Linked DNA regions of Homo sapiens: region 2 is linked to region 1. Evidence: fine-mapped expression QTL. Tissue or cell type: iPS cells. Region 1 holds a variant in brackets; the other region holds the start of a gene. All regions are shown on one strand. Distances are from middle to middle.

Region 1 (2,692 bases):
ATATGTGACATCCTATATGGGAAGATTTTTCTGCCTCAACCCCCTACCCCCCACCATACTGAGTTAGTTGCTTCCCCTCTGAGTTTCCTAGATACCATGTATTTATTTCAGTTGTAGCTTGAATTTGATTGTATTATAATTGATAGTTTACTTGTTTATTGTTAGATATCTTTTTTTTTTTTAAACAGAGTCTCATCTGTCGCCCAGGCTGGAATGCAGTGGTGCAATCTCCGTTAACTGCAACCTCCGCCTCCCTCTGGTTCAAGTGATTCTTGTGCCTCGACCTCCCAAGTAGCTAGGATTACAGGCATGAGCCACCATTACCAGCTTTAGATATCTTTTAATGATATGGATATCTTATTTGCCTACACATTTTAAATATCTTATGCTCAAAAATGTATTTTAAATAAAATGTCTGGAATAGAGAAATATGGAAGCTGTTTTATGTCAAGTAAAGCCACAAATATCACCTTTAATAAAGTTTGATTATATGAATGTTTTAGATGAATGCATGTGCTCTCTTGGCTCAATTAGCAAACATTTCATAATAGACCAGGTTTATGAATTATTTTTTCCCAAAATTAATAATAAGAGATATGAATCCCTTATCAAGGTTTAGGGAAAGTAAAGATACTATTGTTTTCAAAACAAAAGTAATTCAAATATTTTAAGATATACATAAAAGCATTTCAATGTTACTTAGATGCTAGTCACTGGTGATAGAACTCTATGATAGGGAATATCAGGTAATGGCAGCCTAAATTATTTACAGCAGTCATCCTACTGAAATCAACTAAATATTCTTGGGTAAAACATTAAAACAATTATCTTAAAAGCACTGAAAATCTGATAAGATAATGGGGAACTGCTAGGACAAATTGTGGAGGAAAGCTAAGCCCAAAGAGGTAAACAGAATATTGAACTTGACATAAAATTGGACATAAGTTGTAGGAAGACAGAAATTAAGAAGCAGGATGGGCTGGGCACCATGGCTCATGGCTGTAATCCCAGCACTTTGGGAGGCTGAGGCGAATGGATCACGAGGTCAGGAGTTCAAGACCAGCCTGGTCAAGATGGTGAAACCTCGTCTCTACTAAAAATACAAAAAATTAGCCAGGCGTGGTGGTGGGCGCCTGTAATCCCAGCTACTCCCGAGGCTGAGGCAGAGAATTGCTTGAACCCGGGAGGCGGAGGTTGCAGTGAGCCAAAATCCTGTCACTACACTCCAGCCTAGGCAACAGAGCAAGACTCCATCTGAAAAAAAAAAAAAAAGAGAAAGAAGAAAAAGAAAGAAAGAAAGAAAGAGAAAGGAAGGAAGGAAAGAAAGAAAGAAAGAGAAAGAAAGAAAGAAAGAAAGAAAGAAAGAAAGAAAGAAAGGAAGAA[AG/G]AAAGGAAGAAAGAAAAAAAAAGAAGCAGGATGTTCAAGATGGGGAGTCTTATGGGGCCTCCAAACTACATTAAGCTGGAACTTCAAAGGACTAATCTTTCCAGTAATAGTATGTGAAAACTAAACCCACCTACTCTCCAGCCCAGAAAACTGCTGGGGAATTTGACTTGGCACCAAAAAGGCCAGAAGGAAAATAGGAAAGGAAAATTTAATCCTATAAACTTGTAACTAGATACCAGATATCCTGCATATTTTTATCTGAGAATACGTAGTCTAAGTAGCCAAGGAGCTTCAAGTCTTGAACTTGATTTAAAGTGGTTTACTAGCAGTAGTATTCACTCACTGGAAGGTGTATAAAAATCTATCGTGAAGAAAGGTATTTCCATCCAAGATCTCAGGATATCCTGGCAAATATCATTTTCAGGATATGGACCATCAAAAGTCAAATAAAAGTTGGCACACATAAAAATATGGAGCTGTCCAGCTGAAACAGCACACAGCAGGTATACACTTGCAGACTTCAGACTCTGGAATTATCAGATGAAGATTTAATATATTTAAATAAATAAATGACAAGCTTAAGAATATTTGCAGGAGCCAGGAGCAGCGGCTCATGCCTGAAATCCCAACACTTTGGGAGCCAAGGTAGGAGAATCACTTGAGCCCAGGAATTCAAGATTGCAGTGAGCTATGATCACGCCTGAGCGACGGAGCAAGACTTGTCTTGAAAAAAAAAATTGCAGGGAACAGAAACCTATAAAAAATATCATGGCAGACTTGATCAGTAATAATTATAATTTTTAAAATGAAAAACACAATAACCAAAATTAACAACTCAAGGAATACTTTTAATAGCATGTTGGACACACAAGAAGACAAAATTAGTAAAATTGGAAGAAAGATAATAAATTACTGATGAAGCAGCACAATGAGACAACAGTGGAACCCAGAAGATATTGAGGAGGTAACTTTAATGTACCAAAATGAAATAAATGCCAATCTTGAATTTTACACCCATGTAAAAATATCTATCAAGAATGACATTTCAGGCAAACAAAAACTATAATAGTTTATCACTAGCAGAAATAGAGGTAAATAATACATAACGCTAAAAGTTTCAATTTAGCAGAAAGATATCACATATTTATATTTGGTTAAGAATCTAATAAAATAAAATAGCCTTAAAACATATGACACAAAAAATTGACAAAATCCAAGGAGAAACAATTCACTATTCATCGTGGAACACTTTAACATAATTTTCTCAGTAACTGATAAAATAAGCAAACAAAAAGAATAAAAAAGAAT
Region 2 (2,692 bases), 85 kb after region 1:
ACGGAACGTGAGGCGTCAGAGAGCAGGTGACCTGTCCGTTGGCTCCTGAATCATGGTCAGAAACGCTGATTAGGGCAATGACGGTGCCCACTTGAGCATCTTCTTTCACTGGGAGAGACAGAGAAGTGACAATCACCTCAGGTGAATTATCATTTTCATCCAGTAGTTCCACTAGGACCGTGCAGTGACCAACCATAGGTGGGTTTCCCTTATCTGTAACATCTACATGAATTTCATAAGTGTTACTGTCCTCAAAGTCAATAGCATCATTTACTTTTATTTCTCCCGTCCTTTCGTTTATCCAAAATTTCCTTCTTATCGTGGGTGGGACCAAAGAGCTAAATGAATACATCATTTCCTTGTTTATTCCTTCATCCGAATCAGAAGCGTTGAGCCGTATTACTAATGTTTGGTTCACTTGATTTTCATACATCTTAACTTCATAAACCGGTCTGTCAAAGATAGGGGCGTTATCATTGGCATCTAACACCAGGATCAGCAGAGAAACAGATCCGGTAAATTCAGGTTTGCCTCCATCAGTTGCTGTCAACAACAACTTTAGCTGAGGATTTTCTTCACGATCCAGCAGCTTCCGCAGAACAAGCACTGGGAATTTGTCTTTGTCTTTTTTGTTTATAATATCAAGAACAAAATACTCATTTGGACTGAGTTTGTAAGTAAGCAATGCGTTCTCTCCAACATCCGCATCAGATGCGCCTTCTAGTGGAAATCGAGAGTCAAGCAGTCTGGATTCAGGTATTGAGAGCTTTTGTTCTGTTACGGAGAACCTGGGCGGGTTGTCGTTAATGTCCTTCACTTCCACGTCCACATGGAAAACCTGCAGCGGCCTGTCCACGATCACCTCCAGGTGGATGCTGCACTCCACGCTCCGCCCGCACAGCTCCTCGCGGTCAATCCGAGAATTCACAAACAAAATGCCATTCTGCAGATTTACCTCCAGAAGGTCCCCGTGTCTTTTGGACGCCACCCGGAACAGGCGCTGCACCAGCTCCGCCAGCTCCAGCCCCAGGTCCTGCGCGATGCGGCCCACGAAGGTGCCGTGTCTGGCCTCCTCGTAGACTGAGTAGTGGAGCTGGCCGCTCCCCACCTCCCAGGCTGCGAGGAGAAGAAGCGAGAGCAGCAGACACTGGACCCCCAGGCAGCTACATCTGGAAACCATCTTATCCTTCTCTTGTTTTACAAATCGACGAATCAGCGGTCTAGAACGCACATACGATCTGACATTTTCTGTCCTATTTCTTATATCTATTTTTTATCGAAATGGCTGAGATCTCAGAATGACGCTACTTCCTAGTCCTTGAGAAACTGGCTGATGCCTTTGTTCTAAAAAGCTATTTTGTGGACGACAGCGACATCCGGTGGCTTTAGGTGTAAGTACGATTCCATGAGTTCACAACTTTTCTTTCATTCATATGTTAATTCTTTTTTTACGTATTTTTATGTCTATGGACTTTCAAAGCCTCACATTACGTCTCTTTATAGTTAATAACAATAAATGTTGATCCCACGTGCAATGTTTTCTTAAATGTAGACTCTCAGAGTAGTGATTTCTTCCCTAACCACATGATTATCAATAGCCGAATTTCAAAATGCCCTTAATATTTGCATACTACTGAGTATACTAATATTTTATTAAATGACAACTTTAGTTCCATTTAAGTTCTGACACTTAACTTACTTCTCTTTCTCATTATTTTGAGATTTAATAAGGTTTATTTAGACACTAATGTCAAGCATCAACTATCTGTGAGGTGTTTATAACTCCGAAGATCTAGTCATCACTAGAATTTAGAGATCATTAGCTTCAACATCAGACATTTCTCCATTTAGATTCCTATTATCCTACTCACTAGCCACATGACTTGGGAAAATCGTTTAACCTCTCCCTCCCTCATGTTCCAATTTTATAACTTTGGCCTAATAGTAATACGGTGGTTGAGTGAATTATAATATAGTAAGTGCTTGCAATAGTACCTTAAGGAGAATGAGTGCTTCATAAATGGAAACTATTCTCAGGCCTCAATTTGGCCACATTTGTTTTCATGAGGCTCAATACCAAATTTGGCTCATCAGGCAAAATTATTACCTATAGAATGCCTTAATTATTGCTACTGCACAGGCTGAGAGTGGTGGTTTCTGTATTTAAGAAAACAGAAAAGTACTATTACAGAAAAATCCTTTATACAAGAAGTTTCATTTTATAATATCTTACACGGGCAAAAAGAATCTTAATTATAATTCTGAATAAAGTAATTAAGAAATTTATTATTTCTGCTTTCAGAGGCAAATGCTTTCAACCCTGTTATATTTACGCTTTTCAAATGCCCAAAAGACACAGTTCTGAAATATATCTAGTAATTTTATCAATGTCAGTGAAGTTTTTCATCACCACTTGCAGTAAAAATATTTTTTTCTCTCTCAAAGTTCTTGAAATCAAATATTCAGGAATGAAAATGTAATATATCTGTGCTGCTGAAAAAAACTTGAGTTTTCTGTCTTTCCAAGAAAGGAAAACTTAACAACAGACATATTGGTCTTATGCAAGGGTTAATTTATTTTATTTAATGATGTTTTGACTTTTCTAAAGAATATTTTTAAATGTGTCAATTACTTTAAACTTTTTTTATTAAAATCTGAATGACAGAGCAACAATATTTATGAATAAGAAAAC

Which allele goes with the higher level. Alleles are on the strand shown, and positions count from the first base shown. SD is a standard deviation of normalised expression in the study named.
For the expression in iPS cells of the gene that starts at base 1,332 in region 2, G is the low allele of the variant in region 1 and AG is the other (large effect, 0.91 SD a copy in HipSci).

What was found. PIP is the estimated chance that this variant, and not a neighbour inherited with it, causes the effect.
Region 2: it holds the start of PCDHA10, and the variant in region 1 is the best candidate, but not a certain one, in a credible set for the expression of PCDHA10 in iPS cells (HipSci, PIP 0.87).

Annotation. Positions count from the first base shown.
Region 1 is chr5:140,939,900-140,942,591 of GRCh38, reverse strand. The region is part of intron 1 of PCDHA1 (protocadherin alpha 1); the gene reads right to left. All of the region lies in intron 1 of PCDHA2 (protocadherin alpha 2), which reads right to left. All of the region lies in intron 1 of PCDHA3 (protocadherin alpha 3), which reads right to left. All of the region lies in intron 1 of PCDHA4 (protocadherin alpha 4), which reads right to left. It also overlaps PCDHA5, PCDHA6, PCDHA7, PCDHA8, PCDHA9 and PCDHA10, and 5 more genes. Among named protein-coding and RNA genes, the nearest start is that of PCDHAC1, 15 kb to the right of the region's middle. The variant AG/G (reference allele first, on the strand shown) is at 1,384.
Region 2 is chr5:140,854,537-140,857,228 of GRCh38, reverse strand. It overlaps PCDHA10 (protocadherin alpha 10), which reads right to left and starts at 1,332. Exons shown (of 4, transcript NM_018901.4): 1 at 1-1,332. The coding sequence starts at 1,180. All of the region lies in intron 1 of PCDHA1 (protocadherin alpha 1), which reads right to left. All of the region lies in intron 1 of PCDHA2 (protocadherin alpha 2), which reads right to left. All of the region lies in intron 1 of PCDHA3 (protocadherin alpha 3), which reads right to left. It also overlaps PCDHA4, PCDHA5, PCDHA6, PCDHA7, PCDHA8 and PCDHA9, and 1 more gene.